Regions from separate parts of the Homo sapiens genome. Here regions 2 and 3 are each linked to region 1. The links come from fine-mapping of genetic effects on gene expression. A gene starts in region 1. Each other region holds a variant in brackets. All regions are shown on one strand. Distances are from middle to middle. Region 1 holds the start of TMEM42 (transmembrane protein 42). Region 2 overlaps ZNF660-ZNF197 (ZNF660-ZNF197 readthrough). Region 3 overlaps ZNF502 (zinc finger protein 502).

The links.
Region 2: its variant is fine-mapped to the expression of TMEM42 in whole blood (TOPMed, PIP above 0.99).
Region 3: its variant is fine-mapped to the expression of TMEM42 in whole blood (TOPMed, PIP above 0.99).

Annotation. Positions count from the first base shown.
Region 1 is chr3:44,855,652-44,866,567 of GRCh38, reverse strand. TMEM42 (transmembrane protein 42) reads right to left here and starts at 4,656. Exons shown (of 3, transcript NM_144638.3): 1 at 4,452-4,656; 2 at 2,225-2,371; 3 at 904-1,528. The coding sequence starts at 4,643. The coding sequence ends at 1,388. It overlaps MIR564 (microRNA 564), which reads right to left and starts at 4,680; the gene lies at 4,587-4,680. It also overlaps a transcript of KIF15 not described here. RefSeq lists silencers at 4,147-4,196, 4,527-4,576 and an enhancer at 4,607-5,196.
Region 2 is chr3:44,626,578-44,637,493 of GRCh38, reverse strand. ZNF660-ZNF197 (ZNF660-ZNF197 readthrough) reads right to left here. Exons shown (of 8, transcript NR_147692.2): 3 at 7,950-8,420; 4 at 6,548-6,680; 5 at 6,273-6,432; 6 at 5,298-5,389; 7 at 4,895-5,021. It overlaps ZNF197 (zinc finger protein 197), which reads right to left. Exons shown (of 6, transcript NM_006991.5): 2 at 7,950-8,420; 3 at 6,273-6,432; 4 at 5,298-5,389; 5 at 4,895-5,021. The coding sequence starts at 8,339. The region is part of intron 2 of ZKSCAN7-AS1 (ZKSCAN7 ZNF cluster antisense RNA 1); the gene reads left to right. Among named protein-coding and RNA genes, the nearest start is that of ZNF197, 7.0 kb to the right of the region's middle. The variant G/A (reference allele first, on the strand shown) is at 5,669.
Region 3 is chr3:44,713,693-44,724,608 of GRCh38, reverse strand. It overlaps ZNF502 (zinc finger protein 502), which reads right to left. Exons shown (of 3, transcript NM_001134442.3): 2 at 4,293-4,406; 3 at 778-3,736. The coding sequence starts at 4,347. The coding sequence ends at 2,157. It overlaps LOC105377056 (a long non-coding RNA gene), which reads left to right. Exons shown (of 3, transcript XR_940788.4): 3 at 8,772-9,092. Among named protein-coding and RNA genes, the nearest start is that of ZNF502, 6.5 kb to the right of the region's middle. RefSeq lists an enhancer at 3,274-4,473. The variant A/C (reference allele first, on the strand shown) is at 4,754.

The DNA.
Region 1 (10,916 bases):
GAAATGTATGAAGAAGACTTGGGGCCAGAGATCAGACTCAGGAGAGCTGAGAGGGCCCTCGGACACCCCAGGGGAGAAGTGAGGCAGGTAAGTGCCGGGCTTCAGGCTCTGTGCTGGGAAAGTGTGCAGGCAGCACACAGCCCACTTTGAACTAGGAATTACATTCACATGGTCTAAGATACAAAAAGAACAAGGGGGCCAGGTGCAGTGGCTCACGCCTGTAATCCCAGCACTTTGGGAGGCTGAGGCGGGCAGATCACGAGGTCAGGAGATCGAGACTATCCTGGATAACATGGTGAAACCCCATCTCTACTAAAAATAAAAAAAATTAGCTGGGCATGGTGGCGGGTGCCTGTAGTCCCAGCTACTCGGGAAGCTGAGGCAGGAGAATGGCGCGAACCCGGGAGGCAGAGCTTGCCGTGAGCTGAGATTGCGCCACTGCACTCCAGCCTGGGTGACAGAGCGAGACTGTCTCAAAAAAAAAAAACCCAAAAAAACAAAAAAACAAAAAACAAAAAAAAACCAAAGGGGAATCTGAGAAAGAAAAGCAAATGACAGAAGAGCCCTAAAGGTAAACGCTAGAGGAACAGAGTGGCAGGGAATGGAGGGACCTCTGAACCACTTTCTTTCCCAAGTAAAACAAGGTCTCCAAAGGGAGGTCAAACTTTTCTCCTTGAGAGCACCAGGAGAATGAACAGACCCTGTGCAGTTCAAAGAGCCTTAGCCTGTGTGACCTCAGGAAGTAACCACAAGATCAAGCTCTAGCAGGTGTCAGAGCAACCGAAGCCACAAGGCTTCTGTACCTGCCTCACTCTCCTGCCTCCTCCACATTGGGATTTCAGCTCACTCTGGCTCCCTCTTACTCCAAAGGGAAGGAAAGAATTAAGATACCGTACCTGGTAGTTTTAACTTACAAAAAACGTATTTATTAATCCAGTTTTCCTCTTCTTGCCATAATACATAAGCATGACACAGATGGCCTGATACATCAGCATGGAACTGTCAGAAAGCCCCACCAGTCACTGCTTCTAGAGTTACATGACTGGCTTTTGTTTGGCAACAGGACAATAATTACAGCGTGGTTTCAAGTACCATACACAAAGCAGACCAACCCCAGGATCTCCAGCATCTGCGAAGGCTCACTGGGGTAGGCCTGGGAGGAAGAATCCAAAGCACTGTACAGATGATCAAAACACTTCCGGTAGAACACTGCTGCAGCTGCACCTCTCCTTACAGAGCCAGAGCCTGCTCCATCAGAGGCCTGCTTCCCTTGGCTGATGGTCAGAAGGCTGCACAACTGGATCGCCCTAGGATACAGTCCCACATGACATCCCAAGGCTGGGCCACCATCATGATCTTTCCAGCTGGTCCGTCTAGCCAAGTGGTGCTACTGCTGCTTGTGTGGAAGGGGCTTCCAGGTGGGTGGGAGCTTCCTGTGGATTAGGGTGAGTCCGCAGAGAATAAGGAACACTCCTCCCCACCACAAGACCTCCTGGCACTCTCCATACAGCACATAGCCCAGGAAGGCCTGCGAGACAAAGATAGCTGTGAGGGACTCAACTTCAGCAGGTGGGCACAACCTCACTCTCCTGGGACTGACTTCCTTCTAAGGGTGCCAGGAGGAAAGGTCTGGAGCCAGAAGCCTTGGGCTTGAAACCTAGCTGTCACCTTCATCAAGTCACTCTATTCAATCTCCCCTGCATGAGTGGAGAGGCTACCTCCCTCACTGCACTGGACCTCAGCAAAGTACACAAGAAAGACCCAGCAGATGCCAGCAGGTAGACACAGCAGGTACATGGTATTTGTTTCTCCCTCAACTCAAGATTGACTACGCTCAGCTCCATCTTGTCAACCTCAGACTACACAGGGCAGAAAAGTTTCTGGGAATCCCAACCCTCTAAATGCCATGGAGCCTTGAGTACACAGAACCCTAGGAAACAGCTAGGATGCACAGTGACTTCAGAATGAGGGCTCCACCCTGGAGGAACAGCAAGCAAGTAGGCTTTTTACTGTCAGGCTTCACTCATATCTAACTTAAGAATTCTTCCATGATTAGAATTACATTTGCTCCATGAATAGAGCACTCATCCAGGGGTCAAGCCACAGCCCAACCTCTGCTTCAGTTCCTGTCCTTTCTCCTGTCTGGGAAAGGAGGGGTTATCCAAAGACAACTCACCCAGAACCCAGATTTAGGACAAGAGCACCACACCCTCAGGCTACTCACCGAGCTGAGGATATTTGAAAAAGTCACTGTGACAGATGCAATGGCTGAAGACATGGAGAAACTGAGGCCCCGGCTAAAGAAGGTCCACATCAGAGAATTGGTGCTCGCCATCACAATAATGCCTAAGACGCATAAACCCATGCTCACCTGCAGGAGAAAGTGTCACTGCAGCCACGTCCACCCTGGGCAGCAACCTGCAGACCCCCTCAAAGCACACCCAGGACTGTGGTTGCTGGCACCCAGGCTCCTACTGAGCTCCCACTACAGCTCAGAGGGCCTCAGAGCTTTCCTGCACAGGGCTTCACTTAACCCTCAGTGGGCAGCAGACCCATCTTACAAATAAAGCAAATTCAGAGAAGATACTCATTTGGCCACCTTGCTGGCCATATGATCTTGGGAAGAAGCAAAATGCTAATCCAAAGCCAGTATTTTCTACTGAACACCGGCCCCTTATTGGTCCCACAATGACCAGTGCTTGAAGATCAGTCCCAGAGGGCCAAGTAGTTCTTACTCCGTAGGTAGTAAGCCTAGGGTAGAGTTCTTATTTCTTGAGATCAGGCAAAGCATGAATTAGCAATGTCTGCTCTGTATTCCCACCCCCAAATCCTATACAAGTTACAGCCCACTAAGGCTGACCCCCTCTGGGTATTCTTGAGCTTTTACTCTGTGTTAGGTCCTGGGCTGTGTTTAAGCATTCTCATTTATTCCTTAACTTCATTTTACAGATAAAGAGCCAGGGGCATTAAGTAACCTTCCTAAAGTGCTACAGCGGTGAGAGCCACCAGGCTTCACAAGCAGGCAGTGTACCTCCATGCTCTTAACTAGGGCACAGCCTTGCCTGAGGGAAACACCACCTCAGACTATTTAGTGATCCCAGACATCCCTTGGAGAACTTGCAGGTATTTTCTTTCTTTTTTTTTAAAGGAGAAAGTCTCAAGAGAAGAGAAGATCTTTAGAAGCCTCCTACACAAAGGATATGCAGTCCCCCTTGCTTGGTGGTGAGTTAGAAACCTGCCTGGAGACAAGGCGGCGGGGGGGGGGGGTGCGGAATCTAAATATACTTATTACTTGTAATGGTTTCTCAGCAGCTGAACACATAGTGTCTTGAGAAAAAGGTGCTTGCTTATAACTTACACCAGGGTGTTCAATTTTTTGGCTTCCCTGGGCCACACTGGAAGAACTGTCTTGGGTCACACATATAATACACTAACACTAATGATATATGATGAGCTAAAAAAAAAATAATAAATCGCAAAAAAATTCATGTTTTAAATTTGCAAATTTGCGTTGGGCCGCGAGTTGGACAACCTTGTCTTACACAAAGCAGCATATGGGCCAGTGGCAACCTGCTTAAAGGGTTATGAAGGTCTAGTTCCTGACAACAAACTTCACGGCCCATACAAAGTTATTCATTTTACTTTCGACCACTTACCCCATGAACTACACCCAATGGGATACTAACCTGAAGCATGGCAGCTACTACTGGATTAGCCCTAAATAGGCTTAACCCTAAATAATCAGTGACCACTGTCCAGGTCAGAGGCTAACCTTGGGCTGCAGACGCAATGAAACCCCTATAGCAAGCAGAGGCTGGTCTACGACGTGGGAGGGAGAGGCAGAGATACACCTTAGCAGACGCCAGGATGCAAGTTTAGGAGTTCTCAGCGTCAGGAAAACATCCAGAACGTCTCTGTCAGTATCCTCTTATGCCTACAGTATCCCAAACTCCCAATTTTCCTGGTAGTGGGGCAGACTGGTCATCTGGTCACAACACCCGTTAATTACGGAGTAAAGGGATGGGCAAGAGGCTTCTCACCTTAAGAGTCACGTGGAGAGAAATGCTCAGGCACAAGGGACTTAAAATGAGAGGTAGAGGGTGGATGTAGGAGGTGTAGTTCTTCCCCGAGAGCGAACTAGCCCAACCGGAGAAAAGGTTTTAGGTCCCTGGTAAGGGAAGAGGCCTCAGTCCCCGACGTCTCTTACCACCTACACTGGACGAGGGTTTGGCGTGATTAGAGGCGAAACACTCTCTGCCACCCCAGCTGACCGCAGCGCCGCCCGCGGCCCGGGGCCCCGGCGGGACAGACCGGCGAGGGTGCGGCGGCGCCCTGCGCCCACCCCCGCCCCACCCCAAGAGCCCCGCGGGCCCCGCAGCGCCCCTCCTCCGCCCAGCGGCGCCCCGCCCGCCCGCCCGCAGCAGCAGCACCAACAGCGCCCCGGGCTCGACCTCGCTGCCGAAGGCCAGCTTGGCGGAGGCGGCGGCCAGGGCCCCGAACGCGCCGGCGCACAGACAGTTGAATACGCCCCAAAAGCGGCGCCGCATCGCACCCGCCTGGAGGTGCGGAGGGAATTCCGCGGGGGTGTCAGGGTACGCGGTCGCGGACACGGCGCCGCCCGGAGGCCCCGGCCTCTCGGCCATGTTGCCTGCTGACACCGTGCCTGGCACCCGCTGCCCGCAGGGCAGAGCGCGCGCCGCGATTGGATGGCAGCCTCACGTGACGCGACGCTCCTGTGACGCCACGCTCCGGCAGGCCCCTTGGGAATCGCTCTCCGGCGCCTCGGAGGGGGCGGGCCAGGTGGCAGAGACCCTGGGCTGTGGCGGCCTCCGGCCTAACCTGTAGTAGGTTTGTGCTCTGGGGAGGACGTCGGGACCCGAGGCCTGAGGCCAAGCCGGGTACTGTGGACGCTGTGGTAGAAGGTAAACTTCTCGCGGCTTAGCCGTCTCCATCCCGGCCACCCGGCTCCCGGTGAAACTTATTAAAGATGCCTAACGGGCCCCGCGCCGGCCCACCGAGTCCATCCACGTCGACCAGGCTTCTCCGCTCCACCCTCCAGCCTGAGGACCGCCGGACCAAGAGATGCCTCGGCAGAGGGCGCTGGGGACCTCCAGACCCAGAAAGACGCCAGAGCCCCATATGGGGACAAGCGCATCACAGAAAACCGAAAAAATGAGGATCTGCGATGAGAGGAAGACAATGATCCATAATCAAGCCACGCAGAATCAACATGACTTCTAATCTCCTGTTATACTTACGTATGTTTAGAATGTTTCCGGCTGGGCGTGGTGGCTCATGCCTGTAATCCCAGCACTTTGGGAGGCCGAGGCGGGTGGATCACCTGAGGTCGGGAGTTCGAGACCAGCCTGACCAACATAGAGAAACCCCGTCTCTACTAAAAATACAAAATTAGCCGGGCGTGGTGGTGCATGCCTGTAATCCCAGCTACTCGGGAGGCCGAGGCAGGAGAAGCGCTTGAACCTGGGAGGTGAAGGTTGTGGTGAGCTGAGATCATGCCATTGCACTCCAGCCTGGCCAACAAGAGTGAACTCCGTCTCAAAAAATAAAAATAAAAATAAAATGTTCCCATTTAAAAAGTACACGTCCTTGAAAATAAAGTGTTGAAATGTATAAAGTGCTATTTCCACTCTCCAGGAAAATCAGTGTTAATAGAGCATTTTTCTATATGTCTATTTAGTTATATATAGTTAAAATGTTAAAAAAATTATAGAATATGTATATGCATTTTTTAAACAAAAATGATTTCACAGTTGAACATACTGTTTAGCAGCATTCTTTTTGTATCTTCTGTTTAGCAAGTTTTTATGGAAGTCCTTCCACACCATGCTGCTTCTCTCACAGGGTGGTTTTGTGGCTCAAATAAAAGCACGGATAAGGCCAGGCACGGTGGCTCACGCCTGTAATCCCAGCACTTTGGGAGGCCAAAGGTGGGTGGATTACGAGGTCAGGAGTTCAAGACCAGATTGGTCAAGATGGTGAAACTCCATCTCTACTAAAAATACAAAAAAAATTAGCTGGGTGTGGTGGCGGGCACCTGTATTCCCAGCTACTTGGGAAGCTGAGGCAGAGAATTGTTTGAACCCAGGAGGCAGAGGTTGCAGTGAGCCGAAATTGCACCACTGCCCTCCAGCCTGGGTGACAGAGTAAGGCTCTGTCTCAAAAAAAAACACGGATAATTTCAGTAACGCCAATATGGTACAAACTGTCCCATTTTGCAGATGAGGAAATTGAGGCTCAGAGGTCTCACTGCACCACTCCATTGAGTAAGGAGCTGCTCAAAGATGATACCCTCTGAAAGCTCTTATCAGGAAATCAAGAGGTGTTGCATTGATCAACTCTGCATGCTTTAAAGAATGTAAAGCAAATTTTCTTAGAACAAACGATGCCTCTACTAGCACTAAAGGTTAAGCATCTCAGAGCCACCTCCTCTGTAAAGCCGTCTCTGCTACTCCCCTACCTTTGTACCAGTCCTGTGGTTGTTCCTCTGGTTGTCTGTTTCTCTGCTAGCCTGCAAGCTCCTTGAGGGCAGGGACTACATCGTTGTTAATCTCCAGGTCCCCAGCCCTGGTGATGATGGCTGAAGTGATGCCATCCTCAGACACTGCTGGGAAGTGATTTCTGCCTCTAAGAAACTCCTGTGTACACACATCACCTAGGGATCTTGCTAAGATGAAGATTCTCATTAGGTCTAGAGCTAGACTGAATTTTGTTTGTTTTTAGAGGGAGACAGAGTCTCTCTGTCACCCAGGCTAGAGTGCAATGGTGTAATCATGGCTCACTTCAGCCTTGAGCTCCCAGGCTGAAGCCATCCTCTCAGCTCAGCCTCCTGAGTAACTAAGACTACAGGCAGGTACCATCAAGCCCAGATTATATATATATGTATTTTTTGAGACAGGGTCCTGCTCTGTCTGCCAGGCTGGAGTACAGTGGTGGATCATAGCTCACTGCAGCCTCAACCTGCTGGGCTCAAGTGATTCTCCCACTTCAGCTTCCTGAGTAGCAGGGACTATGGGTGCATCATGCCTGGCTAATTTTTGTATTTTTTGTATAGACAGGATTTTGACATGTGGCCCAGGCTGGTCTTGAACCCCTGGGCCCAAGTGATCCACCCACCTTGGCCTCCCAAAGTGCTGGGATTACGGACATGAGCCACCGCACCCAAGCCGCCAGCTCCAAAAATTAGATTCCAGCCCTCAAAACCCACAACAGGACCTAATTAACCTCGCCTTCAAGGTGTACAATAATAGAGTAAAGGCAGCCAAGTAGCAATGTTTTTCTGAGTTGCAATTAGTTGCCTCCACTGTGAGAGAAACCCCAGCCACATCTCCAGCACACAAGAACTTCAAAACGTCTGAACCGCAGTGGCCAGGCTTTCCTCCAGGACCGCCTCCCACAGGAGCTTGCTTAAAGTGCCATAAATCTGGCCACTGGGCCAAGAAATGCCCACAGCCCTGGGATTCCTCCTAAGCCGTGTCCCAACTGTGCGGGACCCCACTGGAAATCAGACTGTCCAGCTTGCCCTGCAGCCACTCCCAGAGCCCCTGGAACTCTGGCCCGGGGCTCTCTGACTGACTCCTTCCCATATCTTCTCAGCTTAGCAGCTGAAGACTGATGCTGCCCGATCGCCTTGGAGGCCCCCTGGACCGTCACGGACACCGAGCTTCGGGTAACTTTTACAGTGGAGGATAAGTCCATCCCCTTCTTAATCAATACAGAGGCTACCAACTCCACATTATCTTCTTTTCAAGGGCCTGTTTCCCTTGCCTCCATAACTGTTGTGGGTATTGACGGCTAGGCTTCTAAACCTCTTAAAACTCCCCAACTCTGGTGCCAACTTGGACAACGTTCTTTAATGCACTCCTTTTTAGTTATCCCCACTTGCCCAGTTCCCTTATTAGGCTGAAATATTTAACCAAATTATCTGCTTCCCTGATTATTCCTGGACTACAGCCACATCTCATTGCCACCCTTCTTCCCAACCGAAAGCCTCCTTTGTGTCTTCCTCTCGTATCCCCCCCACCTTAACCCACAAGTATGGGACACCTCCACTCCCTCCCTGGCAACCCATCACACGCGCATTACTATCCCATTAAAACCTAATCACCCTTACCCTGCTCAATGCCAGTATCCCATCCCACAACAGGCTTTAAGGGGATTAAAGCCTGTTATCACTCGCCTGCTACAGCATGGGCTTCTAAAACCTATAAACTCTCCTTACAATTCTCCCATTTTACCTATTCAAAAACCGGACAAGTCTTACAGGTTAGTTCAGGATCTGCGCCTTATCAACCAAATTATTTTGCCTATCCACCCTGTAGTGCCCAACCTGTACACTCTTTAGTCCTCAATACCTTCCTCCACAACTCACTATTCCATTCTTGATCTTAAAGATGCTTTTTTCACTATTCCCCTACACCCCTCGTCCCAGCCTCTGCTTTTACCTGGACTGACCCTGACACCCATCAGTCCCAGCAGCTTACCTGGGCTGTACTGCCGCAAGGCTTCAGGGACAGCACTCATTACTTCAGCCAAGCTCTTTCTCTTGATTTACTTTCTTTCCACCCTTCTGCTTCTCACCTTATTCAATATATTGATGACCTTCTACTTTGTAGCCCCTCCTTTGAATCTTCTCAACAGGACACCCTCCTGCTCCTTCAACATTTATTCTCCAAGGGATATTGGGTATCCCCCTCCAAAGCTCAATTTCTTCTCCATCCGTTACCTACCTCGGCATAATTCTTCATAAAAACATACGTGCTCTCTCTGCCGATCATGTCTGACTGATCTCTCAAACCCCAACCCCTTCTACAAAACAACAACTCCTTTCCTTCCTGGACATGGTTGGATACTTTCGACTTTGGATACCTGGTTTTGCCATCCTAACAAAACCGTTAAATAAACTCACAAAAGGAAATCTAGCCGACCCTATAGATCCTAAATCTTTTCCCCACTCCTCTTTCCGTTCCTTGAAGACAGCTTTAGAGACTGCTCCTGCACTAGCTCTCTGTGACTCATCCCAACCCTTTTCATTACACACAGCCAAAGTGCAGGGCTGTGCAGTCGGAATTCTTACACAAGGACCAGGACCGCGCCCCATAGCCTTTTTGTCCAAACAACTTGACCTTACTGTTTTAGGCTGGCCATTATGTCTCCGTGCAGCGGCTGCTGCTGCCCTAATACTTTTAGAGGCCCTAAAAATCACAAACTATGCTCAACTCACTTTCTACAGTTCTCATAATTTCCAAAATCTATTTTCTTCCTCCCACTTGATGCATATACTTTCTGCTTCCCGACTCCTTCAGCTATCCTCACTCTTTGTTGAGTCTCCCACAGTTACCATTTTTCTGGCCCGGACTTCAGTCCGGCCTCCCACATTATTCTGGATACCAAACTAGACCCCCATGACTGTATCTCTCTGATCCACCTGACATTCACTCCATTTCCCTATATTTCCTTCTTTCCTGTTCCTCATCCTGATCACACTTGGTTTACTGATGGCAGTTCCACCAGGCCTAATTGCCACTCACCAGCAAAACAGGCTATGCTGTAGTATCTTCCACATCTATCATTGAGGCTACCGCTCTGCCCTCCTCCACTACCTCTCAGCAAGCCGAACTCACTGCCTTAACTCAGGCCCTCACTCTTGCAAAAGGACTACGTGTCAGTATTTATACTGACTCTATGCCTTCCATATCCTGCACCACCATGCTGTTATATGGGCAGAAAGAGGTTTCCTCACTACGCAAGGGTCCTCCATCATTAAGGCCTCCTTAATAAAAACTCTTCTCAAGGCCGCTTTACTTCCAAAGGAAGCTGGAGTCATACACTGCAAGGGCCACCAAAAGGCATCAGATCCTATCGCTCAGGGCAATGCTTATGCTGATAAGGTAGCTAAAGAAGCACCTAGCCTTCCAACTTCTGTCCCTCATGGCCAGTTTTTCTCCGTCTCATCAGTCACTCCCACCTACTTTCCCACTGAAACTTCCACCTGTCAGTCTCTCCCCACACAAGGCAAATGGTTCTTGGACCAAGAAAAATATCTCCTTCCAGCCTCACAGGCCCATTCTATTCTATCGTCATTTCATAACCTCTTCCATGTAGGTTACAAGCCGCTAACCCGCCTCTTAGAACCTCTCATTTCCTTTCCATCGTGGAAATCTGTCCTCAAAGAAATCACTTCTCAGTGTTCCATCTGCTATTCTGCTACTCCGCAGGGATTGTTCAGGCCCCCTCCCTTCCCTACACATCAAGTTTGGGGATTTGCCCCTGCCCAGGACTGGCAAATTGACTTTACTCACATGCCCCGAGTCAGGAAACTAAAATACCTCTTGGTCTGGGTAGACACTTTCACTGGATGGGTAGACACCTTTCCCACAGGGTCTGAGAAGGCCATCACAGTCATTTCTTCCCTTTTGTCCGCCATAATTCCTGGGTTTGGGCTTCCCACCTCTATACAGTCCGATAACGGACCGGCCTTTATTAGTCAAATCACCCAAGCAGTTTCTCAGGCTCTTGGTATTCAGTGAAACCTTCATACCCCTTACCATCCTCAATCTTCAGGAAAGGTAGAACGGACTAATGGTCTTTTAAAAACACACCTCACCAAGCTCAGCCTCAACTTAAAAAAAAAGAACTCTCAAAAATAGAGCCCAAAAACTCACCAACCAACCAATCAATTACACTAAATCCCCTTGGATGCTCTCTAATTGGATGTCCTGCGTCCTCCCAATTCTTAGTCCTTTAATATCTGTTTTTCTCCTTCTCTTATTTGGACCTTGTGTCTTTAGTTTCTCAATTCATACAAAACCACATCCAGGCCATCACCAATAATTCTATACGACAAATCCTCCTTCTAACAACCCCACAATATCACCCCTCACCCCAAAATCTTTCTT
Region 2 (10,916 bases), 230 kb after region 1:
AAACTGGAATTCATCACAATTAATGACTTTTGTCCTTCAAAGGATACCATCAAGTAAGGGAAAAGTCACCAGGCCCAGTGGCTCATGCCTGTAATGCCAACACTTGGGGAGGCTGAGGCAGGAAGATCGCTTGAGGCCAGGAGTTCAAGACTAGCTTGGGCAACACGGTAAGACTCTGTCTCTACAAAAAATTTTAAAATTAGCCAGGCTGGTGGGGTGCATTTGTAATCCCAGCCACTTGGGAGGCTGAGGTGAGAGGATCGCTTGAGCCCAGGAATTCAAGGCTGCAGTAAGCTATGATCACACCACTACACTCCAGCCTGGGCAACAGGGCAAGACCCCACAGAATGGGAGAAAATATTTGTAAGTCATATATCTGTTACGGGACTTATATATAGAATATATAAAGAACTCTTACAACTTAGTAATAAAAAGACAAATAACTTAGTTAAAATATAGACAAAGAATCTGAATAGACAGTTTTCTCCGAAGACGTACATATAGTCAATAAGAACATAAAAAGTTGCTTGACATCATTAACCATCAGGTAAATGCACATCAAAACCACAGTGAGATATCATTTCAGACCCACTAGGATAGTTAAAATAAAAAAGACAGATAATAACAAGTGTTAGGGATGATGCAGAGAAACAGGAACCCTTATACGCTGCTGGAAGGAGTGTAAAATGGTGCAGTTGCTTTGGAAAACAGTCTGGAAGTTCCTCAAATGATTAAATACAGAGTTATCATAAGACCTAGCAATTCTACTTCTAGGTAGAAATGAAAACATATATCCACACAAAAAATTATACACAAACGTTCATAGCAGCATTATTCATAATGGACCAAAAGCGGAAGTACCTAAGTATTTATCAACTGATAAATGGGAGATACATCCATTCAATGGAATATTTGGCAATAAAAAGGAATAAAGAACTGATACCTGATACAACATGGATGAGCCTTAGAAATACTATGCTAAGTAAAAGAAGCCAATCACAAATGACCACATATTGCATGATTCCATTTATATGAAATGTTTCAAATACACAAATCTACAGAGGTAGAAAGTAGATTGGTGCCTGCTAGGGCTGGATTGGAGGAATGAGTTAGGTGAAATGAAGGTGGACTGCTGAAGGGTTCAAGGTTCCTTTTGGGGTTGATGAAATTTTTTTTTTTTTTTTTTTTTGAGACGGAGTCTTGCTCTGTCGCCCAGGCTGGAGTGCAATGGCACAATCTCGGCTCACTGCAAGCTCTGCCTCCCGGGTTCAAGCCATTCTCCTGCCTCAGCCTCCCAAGTAGCTGGGACTACAGGCACCTGCCACCACACCCGGCTAATTTTTTTGTATTTTTAGTAGAGACGGGGTTTCCCCGTGTTAGCCAGGATGGTCTTGATCTCCTGACCTCGTGATCCGCCTGCCTTGGCCTCCCAAACGGCTGGGATTACAGGCATGAGCCACCATGCCGGCCGAAAATGTTTTAAAATTATTGTGGTGATGGTTGCACAACTCTGTGAATACACAATAACCACTGAACTGTACACTTTAAATGGTGAATTTTACGGTATGTTAAATATACCTCAGTAAAACTGTTATAAATCTTTCCTTCCTGGTGGAGGAACTGGGAACCATCCATCTCCTCCTCCCACTGTCCCAATCCTTCCATCATTCCCAGGATCCTATGGGCTCACACAAACTTATGCACCCTTTTATTATACAGAATGTGCCAAATTGTATTGTAATTATAAGTGGAAATGTCTATCTCTCCAATCTGAATGTACTTTAAGGCAGGGGCTAAGCCTGACAGGGGAGGTACTCAATATTTCTTAATACTTTCCTTCAAGTTTTAGTCCAATCTCCTAAATAAACATATACAAATATTTTACATACTGAAGTAGTATGTACAAGTTATCTGGGAGTCTACTTTTCTACCACAGTTTATCGATGCATGAAAATTGAGTACACAGAGTTGTCATAATATTTGATAGTGTCATAATATACTATTAGGTCAAAACACCATGTTCTGCTTAGTACTTTACCCTTAGGGAATTTGTTTTGCCCAACTTTTAACCATCATAGTTACCTGGGACTATTTTTAGACATATAACTTTTATTTCCTCTTTCTGAACCATTTCTTTAATGTATCTCAAATCAGAGTTACTAAGTCAATGGGAATAAACATTGGGCATCTGCTTGCCCGAAGCCCCAACAACATCGGAGTGCACATTTTTTTTTTAATTTATTAAAGTAGGTTCAAGTTTCTTTTTCTTCAAAGAGCCAGAATAATCAAGCAATTACATTATTTTATTGGTTTTTTTTTTTTTTTAGTTTAACTCTTAGACCTATCTGGAATTTATTTTAGTATACAGCATGAGGTATGGGTCCATGGTGAGTGTTCTTCATAAAATTAGCCAATTAATCCATATAGTCTATTTTAAAATTTTTAGGAAAGATTGATTATTGAGTAAATAGCTTTGGAACTACTGAAAGCTACTTGGATTAAAAAACAAGCTTGGAGGGTGGTGCATGCCTAGAGTCTCAGCTACTTGGGAGGCTGGGGTGGGAGGTTTGCTTGAGGCCAGGAGTTTGAGGCCAGCCTGGGCAGCATAGTGAGGCTGCCATCTCAAAAAGCAATAACACCCCTCCACAAGATGTCTATGTCATTCTATGTATCAAGATATATTGATAAATATCAAGATGGATTAAAGCTTAAATGTCAAAATAAAATGATAAATAAGAAAATACAGCTGGGTATGGTGGCTCACGCCTATAATCCCAGCACTTTGGGAGGCTGAGGCGGGTGGATCACCTGAGGTCAGGAGTTTAAGACCAGCCTGGCCAACATGGCGAAACCCCGTCTCTACTAAAAATACAAAAATTAGCTGGGCCTGGTGGTGCATGCCTGTAGTCCCAGCTACTTGGGAGGCTGAGGCAGGAGAATTGCTTGAACCCAGGAGGCAGAGGTTACAGTGAGCTGAGATCACGCCACTGCACTCCAGCCTGGCCGACAAGTGGAAACTCCATCTCAAAAAAAAAAATAGAATACAGGTGGGTTTACAAAATAATTTTATGAGGAAAAAGACCACTAAGACCATAAAGGAAAATACTGCCAAGTTTGACAACATAAAGGATTTTCTAAGGCTTAAAAAAAATTAATAATATTGAAAGGCAAACAAATGGGAAAAACATATGCAACAACTGACAAAGCATTAGCAGTAGTTCTATATATAGGAAGTATATGAATAGGAGTAAAATGACCAATAAACATATGAAGAGATTTCAATCACACTAATAATGAAAACATGAAAAACAAACAAAAGATGGTATTCTTCATCTACCTAGCAAAGATTTAATTAAAAGACTGACCAAATCATGAGCATATCCAGGGAAAATTGGCTCTCCTGTGTGTTCTTTCTGTGGGAGTTTAATTCAAGTATCATTGGTAGAAAATAATTTGGTAATATGTATCAAAGTATAAAATCTACAGACTGTTTCACCCACCACTGCCACTACTGAGATACTAAAGGATACAGTCTCAAAAGTGTGAAAATGTACAGTTTAAATTATTAAAGATAATAAAATAAAGTTGCTAGGTACAAAATTAACACAAACAAAAAGTACTTTCATATATGCAAATGACAGTCAATTAGAAAATACAGAAAAGACTCCAATTCCAAAGAATAAATATTACCAGAAATATGGAAGATCTAGGCAATTTTAAAACATGCCCGATGCATACAAAAGCAGTACAGAAAAAATGGAATGTTATGTAATGTTCTTGAATAGAAACATTCAGAATCATAAAGCTGTCAATGTAAAGCATGATACACAGACCATGCAATACTCTGCAGCCATTTAAACTGATACTGTAAATCTGTATTTCAGTCAAAGTTAGTTCCTGTGGCTGATTACCCAGTTCTGAACGTTGATTTCTCCAAAGAGAATTCTACTCTTTTCTTCAAGTTCCAGTATAAATGCTACCTCCTTTATGGCCTTTGCTAATCCCTAGGAATGAAACTGATTGCCCCGTTTTCTGCATTTCTGTCACACCAGGTTTATGCCACTCTTGTACCAATTATTTTACTCTGCCTTGTATATTTAATATCTCTGTAATCATCTCCTAAACCATTGTAAGCTATTTAAGGGCCGAATCACATCATTTTCACAGCTGTACCATGATAGGTATTTAATGTCTGCTGGTAGCAAAAATGGCTAAAAATTGTTTTGAAATATTCTTTTATTATTTATCAAAGAAATCTATTTTAGAATATATATAACTTTAAAAATATATTAGCAACAATTTAGAATTGTGGGATTACTCAGTACAAATGAAGGCAGAGCAAAAGGAGTGTTCTTATACACCACTTCTAAGAACAGAGAGGACAGGGATCGCTACAGAAAGTAATTTGGCAATATGAAGCAAGAGCCTCAAAGCCATTCAAACACTTATGCCCAGTAATTGTACCTCTAAAAATAATAAAACATTTTAGAAGGCCTTAGGCACAGAGACAGATGATTATTATAGCAGTTATCTAAAATAAGGAATGGCTGACTGAATTATGGTACAAATCATATAGCCAATATAGATAATAACTGCAAAGAGTTTGTAACATGTGAGAACACACACAAGGAAAGCAAGCTATAAAACTGTGCACAGACACACACACACACACACTTTGGAACAATGTAAAAAATCCCTCAAACATATAGAAAAAACAGAAAGGTAATATATCAAAATGATAATAGTTATCTGGAAATAGCGATGTTAAGGAAGGTTTTTTTCTTCTTTGTAATATTCGGTGTTTTCCAAAATACATATATGCTACTTTTATAATCAGAAAACAAATAAAGGCTGGTGAAATAAAGGTAAGCATCATAGAAAGAAGAATCCTTACCTAGGGAGGTCACATTTCCATAATTCTCCAGCATCACATCCCAGTACAAGGCCCTCTGGATTGGGCCCAGACATGCCCATTCCTCTGAAGTGAAGCATACTGACACCTCCTCGAACATCACCAACTCCTGAAATAACAAGTGTGTGTGAGATTACCAATGCCCAGGAACTTGCCTGTCGAAAGGTTCCCTTCACTTCTGGGGAAGGGATACACTGTGAGGCCATGAGTGCATAACAGACATCAGGGAGACATAAGGAGATCACATGTAAAGTCTGTCTTCCAATAGCATAGACCCTGATTTAGAAATGGGAACTGACTGGACATTGAAGCACAAGGATGAGAGAGGGCACTTCAGCCACAGTTACGCTGTGCAGATGGGAAGGAAAGAGGATGCAAACCTTACCTGGGGCTGGGCTGTTAGGAGCATAAGTGCCATTAATTGATTTCTTGGGTTCTCTTCCTGGGAAAGGGCAGAAGCTTCAGGGGCAGGAGAATCTGAGGAGGGAGAAAAAGCTGCATATGGGACCTACAAACCTTTTCTGAGTGACCCCACTTGCAGAGCTGGAATAACACAAAGAGTAGCAGTAAGAATGATACAAGGCAGGGCGTGGTGGCTCACACCTGTAATCCCAGAGCTTTGGGAAGCCGAGGTGGGTGGCTCCCAAGGTCAAGAGATTACGACCATCCTGGCCAACATGGTGAAACCCTGTCTCTACTAAAAATACAAAAAAATTAGCTGGGCGTGGTGGCACGTGCCTGTAGTCCCAGGTACTC[G/A]GGAGGCTGAGGCAGGAGAATGGCTTGAACCTGGGAGGCGGAGGTTGCAGTGAGCCGAGATTGTGCCATTGCACTCCAGCCTGGCAACAGAGCGAGACTCCATCTCAAAAAAAAAAAACAAAAATGGCCGGGTGCAGTGGCTCACACCTGTAATCCCAGCACTTTGGGAGGCCAAGGCGGGCAGATCACAAGGTCAGATCAAGACCATCTTGGCTAACACAGTGAAACCCCGTTTCTACTAAAAAAAAAATTAAAAAACTAGCCGGGCACAGTGGCGGGCACCTGTAGTCCCAGCTACTCAGGAGGCTGACGTAGGAGAATGGCGTAAACCCAGGAGGCGGAGGTTGCAGTGAGCTGAGATCGCGCCACTGCACTCCAGCCTGGGCGACAGAGCGAGACTCCGTCTCAAAAAAAAAAAGGGGGGATGTATACAAGCTCAGAGGGGCCCAAGAAAGAAGGAGAGAACAACAGAACAGCAGAAAGAAATTGGCACTGTAAGAGACTCCTAGACAGGGTAGCAGAGGAAGCAACTCCCTGGAAGTAGGGGGATGAGCCACAGGAAGGGTCCTTGAACAGCCCAAAACCCAGAGCACTGAGTAAATACCATGCTGAGGATCCTGGAGGTTGAATGCCACTAGGTCAGTAGGAGGATGCGGGCAAATTTCAGCTGCTATGTGGCTGCCAGGAAGTACAGGAGGAAGTGTTGTTCCTGGGGCACTCACCACCTTCTGGAGAGTGTCCTGATCCTTGACAAGGACTGGAACCTGGAAACAAGTAAAATAAGCTAGCTCTTCTTGTTTCTTAAGAAAATGGACTCACCTAAGCACTGTGGACCTCTTTCTGCCCACAATCTACAACTGTGAGATCAGAGAGACCCACCTCAAGTATGGAGCATCAAAACAGCAGTAAAGCTTTGCATTGAGAACAATGGAGCTGCCCTCGAGCCCCACTCATGGCACTGGTGACCTCTCCCAGAGGAGACTGTACACAACGGTGGGAACAGAAGCCAGACCTGGGTGTGGGTTAAGGAGGGAATGGGAAGTAATAAGCAGTAATTAAGAGCATGGATTTTAGCTTCAGACTTAAGTTTTAGATCGGACTTCAGTCACATCTCTTCTACTTATTTACCATCTACTTATTGACCCCTTTACCTAGCCCTTTGTGCTCAAATACAACTAACACTAAAATTGGCACCAAGACACTTGGTTTTGCGGCCAGCTAGACATCTGCCTCAGTTTCCTTATCTCTCAAATGAGGATGTATTAGTAATTTGTAACGAAATATATAGCTCTAAAATTGTTCACGTTATTATTAAAAGAAACAAGCCCATCCTTAATGCCACACCCAAGTTTGAGTTATGATTCAGACGTCTTATACAGAAATGTTTCTAGTGAGCTACAGATGTACAAAAAGAAATCTCACACACATGAGAGGCTACATTAAGATCCCAATCTAATGGTCAAGGATATAAATCTTATCAGAAGCAAATATCTTAACCCAATCCCTTGGCTTGCAGATCCCTAGTAGGGCACACAAGAGGAGATCTTACCAAGATGTGGAAAGCTTCATTCTTGTTATGCTACTGCCATTTTATTTATTTATTTATTTAAAGACAGGATCTCACTCCATCACCCAGGCTGGAGTGCAATGGTGTAATCATAGCTCACTGCTGCCTCAACCTCCTGGGTTCAAGTGATCCTCCCACCTCAGCCTTCTAAGTAGCTGGGACTATAGGCACTCGCCACTACATCTGGCTAATTTTTAAATTTTTTGTAGAGATGGGGTCTTCCCATGTTGTCCAGGCTGGTCTTGAACTCCTGGCCTCAAATGATCCTCCCACCTCAGCCTCCCAAAATGCTGTGGCATGAGCCACTGTGCCTGGCCTGCTATTGCCTTTTATACTCTAGGCTTACATCACCATTCCAAACAGAATTATAGAAACAATACATAGGCTTCTGTTTAGGGAAAAACTTATTAACATTTCTTCTTCAGGTTCTTGGTCCAAACTCAGCATTAGCAAGCATTACCCAAGGGACAAAACAGTCAATGTTTTTATGCTGCTTCTCAGTTGGACCCGAAGACCTCAACGTAAATCCGTTTCTCTACAGACATATTCTATGGTCTGAATACTCATGGACCTGCTTTAATTATCATTAAGGTTGCTAGTGTGCTATTAATGCTATTAATTTTTAATGAAAATCACAGGATCACCCTCTAGCCTAGCCTCAATTCTTTCCTTCCTTTCATCCCAACACCCACCGCCCCTCCCTGTCTTTCTCACTTGTATTGCTGGTCCATCAAGGTCTTTCTGCAGCTCCTCTACCAGGGCCACAGCCTCCTCGCCACTTCCAGGGTGATGGAGCTGTACCCAGGTCCGAATCTCCCCAGGCAGGATGCTCAGAAACTGCTCCAGCACCAGCAGCTCCAGGATCTGTGCCTTGGTGCGTGCTTCTGGTCTCAGCCACCGGCGACAGAGTTCCCTGAGCCGGCTCAGGGCTTCCTGGGGTCCAGATGTCTCATGGTAACGTAATTGTCTAAAGTGTAGGTGGGAGGTCTCCCAAACAGAGGAGCTACTTCCTTGGAAGCTGGTTCCCCATTTCCAGGTATCATCCTTCCCCTTCACAAGGCCCTCTTGTCTCAGAGCATTGTGGGCTACATTTTCTCTTGTCATTGTTGTTTTTTGAAAAAGGCTCCTCTCCAGTCCAGGTCTCCTTAATCCTTGACTTCTTCCTTACAGCTTGGAGAGTATCATCTACAAGACCTCAAGAAATCATTGTTAAAGTTAGCCCAGAGAAACAACTGAGCTTTCCAGGCCCCAGTCAGCTCCCAGTCAGCTCCCAGTAATAAAGAGAACCTTTGTGAGTGCAAGGTTCCAGGCTCTAGAGAGTGCTTCCTCTGACAGAAACCCCCTGCCTAAGGCTCTGGGATACAAACACTCATGTTACGCACGAGACTGCTGAAACCAAACACATGAACTTCCTTTGGTCTTTGTTCATAGGATCCCTTCAGCTAATTACAATAGACTCTTTACCACTCTAACAATGAGCATCCTGACTACTCCTGTGTAACCTGGAACAAGTACCTCACTTCTGAGCCTTAGTTTCTTAACCTGTAAAATAGGGATAGTAACAGTTCCTACCTTATGGGGTTGTCATGAGAATTTGATGTATAATACATTTCAAGTTTTTGAACAGTGCCTGGTATACGGGTTTAAATGTTACTTATTACCCTTCTGTAACTAGTACTCTTTCCTATGTTCCGCAGAGTTAACAAGTAATCATTAATCATGATACATATGAGAGAAAATCCTAACCACCTCCTCAATTAACAAAGAAAGGATGAATTAAGTTCTGTGTAGTTTTGCTCTACATGCCTTTAATTCTCTGAAAATTGTTCTTTCTGTTAATCAAAATATTTGGATAAATTTGCCTTTTCTTCTTTTCCTTTCACATCTAGTCCCACAGATGGATAAATATGAATAGAGTTTTATTATACAGAACTTAGACTTGCTCTCTAGAAATCATCTGCTCTTTAGAAATAACATTTTTCTAATTATAAAACCAGAAAACACACAAAACCAGAAAACAATCACTGCTATTATTCTGAACTATGTCCTTACCATAGTTTAATTATCATAGATAAATTCTAACTTTCCCCTATTATTAATAAGGTCACAACGGCTATCCTTGATAACAAATTTTTAGTTACATCTCTGCTTATTTCTTCAGGATAAACTCCTAGGAGAAAATTGTTGGGCTGAAGGATAAAAACATTTTTAAGCTTTTAAGGTTATAACAGTTATATCACCATCAGTGACATATGAAAACATCCTCTTTATTTGAACACACAGACCCTTAAAGAGAGCTTGCTTATAACAAACAGGGGAGCCAGAAATATAAACATAATTTCAATATAATGTTTAAGTACAAGTAATAGGAGAACATAAAACTACAGAAAGGATTCATGAAAGGAAATTTCTTTTTTTTTTTTTTTTTGAGATGGAGTCTCGCTCTGTCACCCAGGCTGGAGTGCAGTGGCATGATCTCGGCTCAGCGCAACCTCTGCTTGACAGGTTCAAGCAATTTTCCTGTCTCAGCTTTCCAGGCAGCTGGTACTACAGGCTCGCACCACCATGCCCAGGTAATTTTTGTATTTTTGGTAGAGACGGGGTTTCGCAATGTTGGCCAGGATGGTCTCAATCTCTTGACCTCGTGATCTGCCTGCCTTGGACTCCCAAAGTGCTGAGATTACAGGCATGAGCCACCATACCCAGCCATGAAAGGTACTTTTGGATTGGGCTTTTAAGGAAAAATAAAAGGATCATTGGACTATGAGGAAAGCCATTCCAGGAAGAAAGAAACTCTATTTTCAAAAGCAAGGAAGGACACATAACTCTGTGAAGGAAGACCAGAGAAGGAAAGTAAACTTCAGAGGCAAGAGTGTAGGAGTAGAGCAGAGAGGTGAACAGAAGTTAAATTCTAACTACTGCTCTTGAGAGGCAGTATTCTGAGGAGATGATCCTGTCCTGTAAGTGAAGTGATTTTACTTACATTTCAGCATTAAAGAGGCTTTACTTTACATTTTTCCTTATTTTTAAAAATAGTAATATATTCACTTGGTTCAAAATTTAAAATTATAAAATGTATACTGTGTAAAGTTTCCTTCTCCGTTAGCTTCTTATCTATCTTTCCAGTTATTTCTGCATATGTGTGTACATATATTGTTTTCTAGTTCCCTTTTTTTCACAAATGGTAGGACACCATGAATGACGTGGTACATTTTCCTCTTCTCAATAATATGTCTTAGAGATCTTTCCTGTCAATACACAGCCCCTCTCCGCATTTTTATGGATGCATAGATGTATCATAATTTATTCATGCCAGCACTGATGGAATGTTTGGGTAGTTTTCAATCATTTCTTATTACCAACAATATAATCATGAATAATCTTGGGCATACATCAGTTTGGATGTGTGTAGGCATATATAAGAAAAATTCCTTGAATCAGAATTGCTGAGTTAAAAGGTATATACATGTATAATTTTGATATTGCCAATTTGACCTCACTAGGATTGAACCAATTTATAATTTATACTCCCATCAGAAACAGCTGTATGGGAGTGCCTTTCCTCACTTTCACCAATATGTTTCTCAAAGTTTGTGCTCTTCGCCAAATTTTTGACTTGCATTTTGAACGAATTAATATAGAGTCATTTGTATATTTTTTAAAGTAACTATTCATATATTT
Region 3 (10,916 bases), 140 kb after region 1:
CAGGGTAGTGGAAAGAACAGTTATTTAACTGTTTCCCCAGAAGGTAAAAACATGCCATATTTTCTCAGCCTGAGAAAAATTCAGGATCAAGTCTGTTTCACTTGAGAAAATCTTTCCCACAAGAACTTATGGATATCATTTTTTTTTTTTTTTCTAGAAAAAGTCTCACTCTGTCTCCCAGGCTGGAGTGCACAGGCACAATCTCGGCTGGCTGCAGCCTCCACCTCCCAGGTTCAAGTGATTCTTGTGCCTCAGCCTCCTGAGATATCTTTAAAGTTTTCTTGTTTCTTTCTTAAGAAAACTCTCCCTATTCTAATCTCCACTCATAATTCTCAAGATGGTGTACAAATATTGCTATAAATAACTATTCATCAGGAAGTTCCAAGAAAGGTTCTGTTGGGCAATAGTTGATATAACTCATGAAATAAATATTTACTGAACATGTATTATGTGCCAGTAATTAATTATGCAGTTTTTATCTAGGAGGTATAAATACATTTTTGCTTTTGGTAAAATAATATTTTCACAAACATATTTAGAAAGGTTTTACAGCATTATTTTTACCCATAGTGTATTAATTTTCTCAATTATGACTTCACTGGTGGTAGGTTTTAAGAACATAATCTTCATAGAAAGTGAAAAAGATATATATTTATACCATACTCCCATTAATGGTAATTCATGGCCCAAACCTATCCCTACAAGGCAACTGCTCTAGAAAAAAAAAAAAAAAACAAAAACAAAAAAAAAAAACGATGAGTTCCAAATAACCAAGCATTCCAGAATCAACTTAGTGTTTTTAATAGCCATACTTTAAAAATGCTATAAGCTTCACAGCTTAGAAATTATTTTAAATACCAATCAAAGGCTATCCTCAATCTTCTGAAGCTCAATTTCTGGGTAGCAGTTAAGAACATGAAAGGAATTTGGGAAATAAAGGGAAAACTATGTCATTTCTCTCAAAAGAATAAAACACTGTCACAGTCAGTAGCAAAATGTGCTATCCTGATTTTCAGGGATTTGAAAAAGATTCTTTTAGAAGTCTTTCCAAAGTCATTCCACGACAAATGTCAACTTTCTTAAGAGCCCCAATGTCCAACCAAGTGAAAATTCTTTCTTCTTTCATTACTAATGCTTTCTCCTAAAGACCAACAAACTAAGTACCATTTTGTTAGGACATTGTTAGTCCTAGTGTGTCTCTCTCCTCTGGTCTCTGTACACCAACAGCCTAGGCAAACTTACAATAGACAGGTGTACACCTTAGTACAGGCAGGGTTATGTAGGTGACTTGCTCAGTCACATGCAGGCTTCCTGTTCTGAGTCTTATCACTCTAGCAGACCATTTCTTTCCTGGGTAACCATATTTCCTCTGAGATAGATATTGAGTCTTCCTGGTTCTCTGAACAGGTATGACTGCCTCCCCATAAACCAGTATCATGAATTCTAACTTGGTCTCCTATTTCATTCTTAGCTCTGAGTCACCTCAAAGCTTGGAAGAATCAGGAAAGACCTTCACCCTGATAATGAAAGAAAGCCTTCTTTACTGGCAGATCTATAGAGGTCAGCCCAGTTGTTGCTTTATATCTCATTTTTTTAATGAATGGATATGGATTTTTTTTTTTTTTTTTTTTGGCTCTTACTTGTTTCTGTCTCCTTTTCACAGGACCACTTCCACAGGTTGGGAGCCTCCCCCATGGTAGCATGGTCAGGGCTGCCTCAAATCTGGAGGCTAGACTTAGCACTACATCAGAGCTGTGCCACTTCACACTGACAGGCAGTGTTTAAGAAAAACATCTCAACCTGCCAGCCAACGAAAATGGGTGACAAGTCAGAATGTGGGGCAGGATGTAGTAAAGTGAACAGAAGTGCTAACAAATGCCTCCTCAAGCTGTAAGAGTCACATGGGGAGACAGTGGCAATGTGTAGGCTTTATCTGAAAAGCAGGAATTTCTTTCTACCCTGTATTCCCAGATGCCCACCTCAAGTAGGCTCTGCATTCCCTAAGCTCCCACCTCCATTTCTGGAAACATTCCTCTCAGAGTACAGTAGCCAAGGCTCCTTCATCCTTCCCTCCAGGAACTCTACCTGCCCCTCTACTCCCAGTCAGATTCGTAGTCATCCTCGCTAGAGAAACTGTCATAACCTAAATGGCAGCATTAGTCACCACTGTGAAGTTTCTGATGTCTGAAAAGGACTGAACTATGTCTGAAGAACTTTCCACACTCAATACACTCATAAGGCTTCTCACCAGTGTGAATTCTGTAATGTTCACTAAGGTGTGCATACTTGCGGAAGGTTTTCTCACACTCACTACATTTATAGAGCTTCTCACCAGTGTGAGTTCTATGATGTTCAGTAAGAGATGAGCTATGAGCAAAGGCTTTCCCACATTCTTTACATTTATAGGGCTTCTCTCCAGTATGAATTCTCATATGCTGAGTGAGGCAGGTGTTCTGATTAAAGCCCTTTCCACATTCATTGCATTTATAGGGTTTTTCTCCAGTGTGACTTCTCTGGTGCCGAATAAGGCAAATGCTCTGAATGAAGGCTTTACCACATTCACTGCATTTGTAGGGTCTCTCCCCTGTATGTATTCTCTGATGTTTAGTGAGTGGGGTGCTCTGAGTAAACGCTTTGCCACATTCTTTACACTTATATGGTTTTTCTCCAGTATGAATTCGCTGGTGTTTAATAAGAGATGGGCTCTGACAAAAGGCTTTGCCACATTCTTTACATTTATAGGGTTTCTCTCCACTATGAATTCTCTGATGCTGAGAGAGGTTTGCCTTTGTTTGGAAAGTTTTCCCACATTCGTCACATTTATGGGGTTTTTCCCCAGTGTGAATTCTCTGATGTTGCGTAAGATTTGAGTGTTTTCGAAAAGAAGAGCCACATTCACTGCATATGTAAGGCTTCTCACCAGTGTGAATTCTCTGATGATGAATAAGGTGTGTATTCTGATTGAATGCCTTCCCACACCTATTGCATTTATAAGGTTTCTCTCCAGTGTGAATTCTCTGGTGTTCAGTGAGATGTGAGTGATTGCGGAAGGAATTCCCACATTCATTGCATTTATAAGGTTTCTCTCCAGTGTGAATTCTTTGATGCTGAGTAAGAAATGATCGACATCGAAATGTTTTCCCACACTGCTCACATCCATATGGTTTCACTCCAGTGTGAATTCTTTGATGTTGAACAAGGAATGAACTACGACTAAAGGCTTTCCCACATTCCTCACATGTGTAGGGTCTCTCTCCAGTATGAGTTCTCTGATGTTGGGTAAGGGATGAGCTCTGAGTAAAGGTTTTTCCACATTCATTACATTTCCAAGATTTTTTCTGTGTGCAGAGAGTTGGACATTTACTTTGGTCTGAAATATCATTGGTTTGTATATTACTTGTTTCCCACTGATGCAGACTCTCTTCTGTAGAAACCCTGAGACGTGTAACAAGGCTTGAGGTCAAAAGCAAGCTTTTCTCAAAATTATATCCTTGACTAATAATTTCAGGGGGTGCTTCTTTGTGGATGAAAGTTATTCTCCCAAAACCTCCTTCCTGGAAAAGGCATGATTCAGCAATCTCCCTAGGAGAGTTTTCCTTCATGCCCTCACATGCATATTTTTCTTCAAATGTAGAATCTTGGTATTCATCCTCTTGGAACCTCTTTACTACTATCCCTGATGAGTCAATTTTACAGACATCCTGCTCCAGAGCAGGCTTGTTCTTGTTTACCCAGCCTGAAAGAAAACAGCAGAATGAATATCTCCTGTACAGGGCAGAGTGAAGGCCCCTGAAACTGTAAGACCTTAACTTTTGGCAGACCTCAGTAATGGCCTATGATGAAGGGCCAGTAACAGCAAGTGTGGCAAGTAAGTTAGAGTTGTAACTGGTAGAAGAGATATGCATTAGGGTAATGTGATCACCATTAACGAGGAACTCCCATGGAAGGGGTAGCTACAGACACCCAAGGAGCAAGAGAATGAGACAATAGAGATAAATGAAAAACAACACCCAACACACAGGCTGAGATTAGGGCAAGACAGGAAACATGAATGGTTTGTATCCAGAGTGGAGAGTGGGAGAATGTAAACAGGAAAATGCTAGAAATGAGAATGATAAAATTAGTACTGGGGAAAAGTTGGCCCCAGACATGTTCACCCACCCCTGTCCCCAACATCCCTATAAGAGACAGTTATTTTATCTCCTGAGCCTCACCCAGCTTGTCCTCTAAAATTTCCAAAGGCTTCCTATTGGCTGACTATTTCTCCCACTGCTTGTCCCTTGCTCACTCACCTGGACAAGTCTCTCTTCTAATGTCTCTCTCTTCAGCTCCTTGCATATTCAACATCCACAGATCGTCTCTTCGCTTTGATTGGAAAACACTTCAGGTCTGGAAAACTGGGAACCCTGCTCATGGGGAGAAAAGGTGCAGGGAGGGAGGGAATATTACTGTCCCAGTAAACAGAACGAAAACAAAGAGCTGTTGCCTAGGGACACTATCTAATAACACACACAATAACTCTCAGGATAACAATGTGGAAGCATCCGCAAAAATCAGCATTGGCTTGTAGCCTCCTAGGTTCACACCCCATTTGCCAGCTGTTCAAGAAGTGGTAACATCAGACTAACATACTATCAAATATTTAAGCACTTGATAAGTAAATCAGAATGTTATTCATTACCTTTTTATAATTATAAAGATTAAACGAATAGGAATATTCACATCAATTAGTACACTCTGGCCATCATACAAT[A/C]ATCTATATGAAAAGCCAGTTAATATAGTTAAAAGTTGTATAGCAAAATGTCCTCATAGCAAAGCTTGTGCATTAAGTCTGATTTACCCACTTCTACCAAATGCCAAGGAGCTGAGATAGTGTTAGGGAATGCTATCTACTTGATACAAACTAGAGACACACTGATTGTCCCTTCTTCAAGATGTCATATCAATTAAACAGTTTTTCTTCAGGTATAGCTCAGTGTCAGAGAACAGGCTGCAGTTAAAAAGAAACAGAAATAAATTTAACTGTGAAATAAGTTTTGACTTACAAAAAAGTTGCAAAAATACCAGTTTCTGTAAATGCTGCTTCTTAAAAATATCAATACCAAAACTGTTCACTCAAAAATATCTCTCCATTTAACCTTGAAGTGAGAAGCAGAACTGGCAGCATTATTCAAGGAAAAAGGGAAGATCCAGATATGATTTTACCAGAGTCAAGAACTTGGAAGACATGAAAGAATAAAATAAGTCTGCTCAAGTACATAATAAGCTTGGTCTTGTGGACTTCTTAGTGAAGTCTGTGCTTCTGCATTGAGTTTTAAAGATTTAAGAAGATCCTTGGCCTGGAGCAGTGGCTTACGCCTGTAATCCCAGCACTTTGGGAGGCTGAGGCAGGCGGATCACCTGAGGTCAGGAGTTTGAGACCAGCCTGGCCAACATGGAGAAACCCTGTCTCTATAAGAATACAAAAATTAGTTGGGCATGATGGCAGGTGCCTGTAATCCCAGCTACTCGGGAGAATGAGGCGGGAGAATCACTTGAACCCAGGAAGCAGATGCTGCAGTAAGCTGAGATTGCGCCATTGCACTCCAGCCTGGGCGACAGAGCAAGACTCCATCTCAAAAAAAAAAAAAAAAGAAGATGATCCTACCTGGTTTTCCTGATTCTGATTCTCATTCACAGGAAGAACATAAAGGAACCTGTAAGCTACTATACAATCCTACAGAGACTCAGAGACTCATGCAAGCAGAGTTGCATTTGGGTGACTAATCAGTGCTAGACGCTGGAAAAAGAAGCCAGACACCCTATCTGGCTCCAACTTGTGTCATAGCTGGACAAAGACATTAAATGAATCATTTCAAATATGGGAGTTACAAAACTGCAAGTATGGGGTGCTACAGAATGTAAAGCACAGGGGACCTAATATAGTCTGGGTCCCCTTTAGACGTGTGAAAGGGAAAAGAAGAGAGACAAAATGAACATACAAAAGGAATCAAGCTCAGTACTTTGGAGGAATAAAGGAAACATAGTAATGCCCAAGTATTAAACACCAGAAATGAGACATAAAAGCCTGAGGCAAGCCAGTTCAAACAGAACCCTAAAAAACATTTTAAGGACTTTACCCTAAAGTGAAGAGAAAGCCATAATAAGGATTTGAAACAGTTTGATAGAATACATGACATGATTAGATCCACTGTTTTAAGGAAACATATTCCTCTGTCTACAGCAACAGATAATCTGCGTAGTGGTGAGGAGTGGGAGGGCAAGGTGAAGGCTTGAAGATCCCTTGTGAGGCTATTTCAGTAGTCCAGTATGGGGACTGGATTAAGAGAAAGGTTCAACCAGAATGAATGAATATTGGTGGGAAGGGTGAGAGAGGGAGATGTCAAGGATAATTAGGCAGTTTTGGGAGATGACAGTGATCTTTAGTGACACTGGTACACTGGTCTGGAAAGGAATAAGTTATCTTTAGTCTCAAATATCCAAACAGAAAGTAGAACAGGGCATACACAGCTGAAAGAGAGGAGAGAGGTGTGGCCTGAAGAGTTTTAGACATAAAAAAAGTACTTGAAATCACAGGAGTAACAGATAAAATCTTTAAAGCAATGTGGCTAGGAAAACTCCAACAGTGAGTCTAAACACTTAAAAGATCTCTAATCCCAGCAAGGTGAGGTAGCTCACACTTGTAATCCTAGCACTTTAGGAGGCCAAGGTGGGAAGATCACTTTAGGCCAGAAGTTTGAAACCAGCCTAGGCAACATAGAAAACTTCACCTCTACAAAAAAAAACAAAAATTAAGTTGGGTGTAGTGGTGTGTACCTATAGTCATAGCTACTAAGGCGGGAGGATCACTTGAGTCCAGGAGTTCGAGGCTGCAGTGAGCTATTAATATGATTGCATTGGCCGGGTGTGGTGGCTCATGCCTGTAATCCCAGCACTTTGGGAGGCTGAGGCAGGTGGATTACTTGAAGTTGGAAGTTCGAGACCAGCCTGACCAACATGGAGAAACCCTGTCTCTACTAAAAATACAAAATTAGCCAGGCATGGTGGCACATGCCTGTAATCCCAGCTACTTGGGAGGCTGAGGCAGAAGAATCCCTTGTACCCGGGAGGCGGAGGTTGTGGTGAGGATGGATCGTGTCATTGCACTCCAGCCTGGGCGACAAGAGCGAAACTCCATCTCAAAAAAAAAAAAAAAAAAAAAAAGATTGCATCACTTCACTCCAGCCTGGGCAACAAAACAAGATCCTGTCTCAAAAATAAATTAATTAAATAAAATATCTCTAATCCTCTAAGAGATGTAAATAAAAATAATTTAATATATGATAAAAGCAGCATTTCTAATCACAAAAAGATAGATAATTCATAAATCAAGTTGGCACCATTGCTAACTACCTGGAAAAAAAAGTGCGATTACTATATCATGCCACACACCAAAATAAACCCAAACCAATTAAAGGGTTAAATAAAAAAAGTAAAACCACAAAATAAAGTATGACCAATAATTCATTCTAGGGTTAGCACTTTCAAGCATGATGCAAAATGGATAGGACAAAAATTGATAAATCTGACCACATAAAAACAATACTCTGTATATCCAAAATACAAAGAAAATGAAGAAAAACAAGCTTTAAAAAAGTATTTTTCAGTTATATATCAAGGGATAGACAGACCTAATAAAGACTTCTTACAAATGAGTAAGAAAAAAAGATGAACTGAGAGAAAAATGGAAAATACAAAAAATACACCAAGAATTACAACAGGCCAGTAAACATATCAAAACAATGTTCCATCTTTATGGTAAACAAGGAAATGGAAACTGAAAGAATGAAGAATCAATTTTTACATCAAACTGGAAAATCTATCTTTAATGCTACACTCAAGATTCACAAAGGTACAGGGAGTTTCTCACATACCGGTGCGAATGTAAGTTGGTACCATCTTTCTGGAGCTAATCTGGCAATATACATCAGGTGTGAAAGTTGTAGCTTCAGTTATAGTTAGGATGCTGTGATCAACATTTTGTGGATACAGGAATTCAGAACAGAATGCTCATTTTGTATATACACCACCTGTAGTGTACCTCAGAGTCATCAGTATGCCATAAAAAATGACTATATTCGGCTGGGCGCAGTGGCTCACACCTGTAATCCCAGCAGTCTGGGAGGCCAAGGCAGGTGGATCACCTGAGGTCAGGAGTTCGAGACCAGCCTGCCCAACATGGTGAAACCACGTCTCTACTAAAAAATACAAAAAATTAGCCGGGCGCAGTGGCAGGCACCTGTAATCTCAGCTACTCAGGAGGCTGAGGCAGGAGAATTGCTTGAACCCAGGGGGCAGAGGCTACAGTGAGCCGAGATCACGCCACTGCACTCCAGCTTGGGCGACAAGAGCGAAACTCCGTCTCAAAAAAAAAAAAAAAAGACTATATTCTTTGACCTAGTAATTCTACAAATAGAATTTTCTCAGAAAGAAGTAAATTTCCAGAGAGAAGAGAAACAGAATTCTTCTGTTACTTGTAAAAATATCCCCTGAAATGTACATGGAAATAAAAGTTTTTCTACTGGTGGACACTGAGGATTAGCAAATTATGGTACTTCTAGTTGGTGAAAATTATTTAGGCATTAAGATCATTAAAAATGAAAATATGTGTTTATTGGGAAAAATATTTATGCCATATGTTGAAAAAATCCAGTATAGTAAAATTTCAAGTAGTAATATAATGTAAAATATATGTTTGTTAAAATATACATGTGTCGTGCTTGTGGTTTCAGCTACTCAGGAGGCTGAGGTGGAAGGATCACTTGAACATGGGAGGTAGAGGTCGCAGTGAGCTGTGATAGCACCATTGCATTCCAACCTGGGTGACAGAGTGAGATCCCTCTCAAAAATTAAAAATTAAAAATACATCTGAATAAGATCAAGAAGGAAAAATAATCATCACTGTGGTAAAATAATGAATTGTGAATAATTTCCTCAAATGTCCTCTATTATCTATATTTTGCTCCACTTTAAAAAAAAAACAAATCTATAAGAATATATAACAAATTATTTATTGTGATCATATCTGAAGAATAAAATTATGGTAAACTTTTGCCTTAAGGCCTATCTTTTTGTAATGTTTGAAAATTTTCCCATAGGAATAACTAACTTCTGTAATCAAAGAAAAAGTGAAAAAGCATAATCAGAGATGGCCAGAGATTTATGTACAAAGATCACACTATTACTACAATTGTTAAATAAACAGGCAAATAAACATTGATAGACTAGCAAAGATAGCTTATGAAGGTATCAAAAATCATAATTTCAAAGAATATTCATGAGAAAATATAATATGTTAAAACAGGAAGATACAAAACACTAAAAAACAAGAAATATGCACACATATACTGGCATTAAGCACTCAATAAACAGAAACTATTGTTAATAAACAGATAAAACACACACATTTAAAAAAGACATAAAGAAAACCCACCAAAATATTAACACATTTATCTCTAGGTCAGTTAATGGGTCACTTTAGTTTGTCCTTTATACTCTTCTATATTTTTACTTCTCCTTCAATAAACATATATTACTTTTATAGGTAGAAAAAGTTACTTTTTAAAAACCCAGAAACAAAAACAAAAACAAAATGCCAGATCCAATGGCTATGGTATTGGCCTCCCATTCACAAGATGATAGTAGACTGGATTGGGACTCAGGAAAGTTTGCTCTGCCAATAGCCCATGTGAGTGGGCCTACATGACAGGCTATTTATCTGAAAAGGGTGACAAATTAGACAATATTTACGGGTCATTCCAGCTCTGATAATCTGTGAATCCTTGATGAGTTAATTCACATAAAGCATTCAAAAAGATATCTACTCGATGGCAGGCACTCAACAGGGGTTAGATGCTATTATGGTTGATACTAAAACCTACGGAGAAAGAAAGACATCTTGGTGATGACCACATCCTTCCAATCATGGATCATCTGAGCTGTCAGCAGTTTGTCAATGTCAAGGGTCAGCAAACATTTTCTGTAACAGGCCAGAAAGCAATTTTTTTTAGGTTTAATGGGTTAAATGGAAAATATAGTCTCTGTCTCAACTATTCAACTTTGCCTTTGTAGTCTGAAAACAGAAACAGACAATATGTACTGAATGAGCTTGCCTGTGTTTTAATAAAACAGTTTTACCAAAAAAAGTGGCAGACCAAATTTGGTCCATATTTGCTGACTCCTAGGTCTATAAGTTGCCCAGAAAGTAATGTACAGGTGCTTCTACAAATGCCTATTGTGGAATAATCTGGCTGTTAGTGATTTTAAGATGCTAAAAAGATCCCTCTGCAGATCTGGGGAAAGCTGAGTATTATGGTGAAAGGTAAAAAGGAAACAGGCTCTTAATAGCCCTATCCTGCTAACCTATTAGAGAGCTGGCTTCCTCCCTCTACCTTGTAAGCTTTTCCCCAGATGCCACCTCCTTACCCCTCAATAATTAGCTAAAAGAATCTAAGCAAGCTAGATGAAGTTTTTCAAGAATTTTTAACAATCCCTCCAACGAGACCACATTGAAATGTACTCCTCTCTGAAGCCCTTCTTGGTCTGCATTTTGGCACCAAACAGTGCACTCACCCAAGCTGTGGCAGTACACTTTATCTCTTATGCAGCCTTGGGTCACTTAGCAATGTGATCTGGGACAAGTTTTCTGTTCTCTCTGTACCTCAGTTCCCTCACTTAAAAACTACACATAGGCCTGGCGCGGTGTTTCACGCCTATAATCCCAGAACTTTGGGAGGCCAAGGCGGGTGGATCACTTGAGGTTGGGAGTTCGCGACCAGCCTGACCAACACTGTGAAACCCCGTTTCTACTAAAAATACAAAATTAGCCAGGTGTGGTGGCGCATGCCTGTAATCCCAGCTACTCGGGAGGCTGAGGC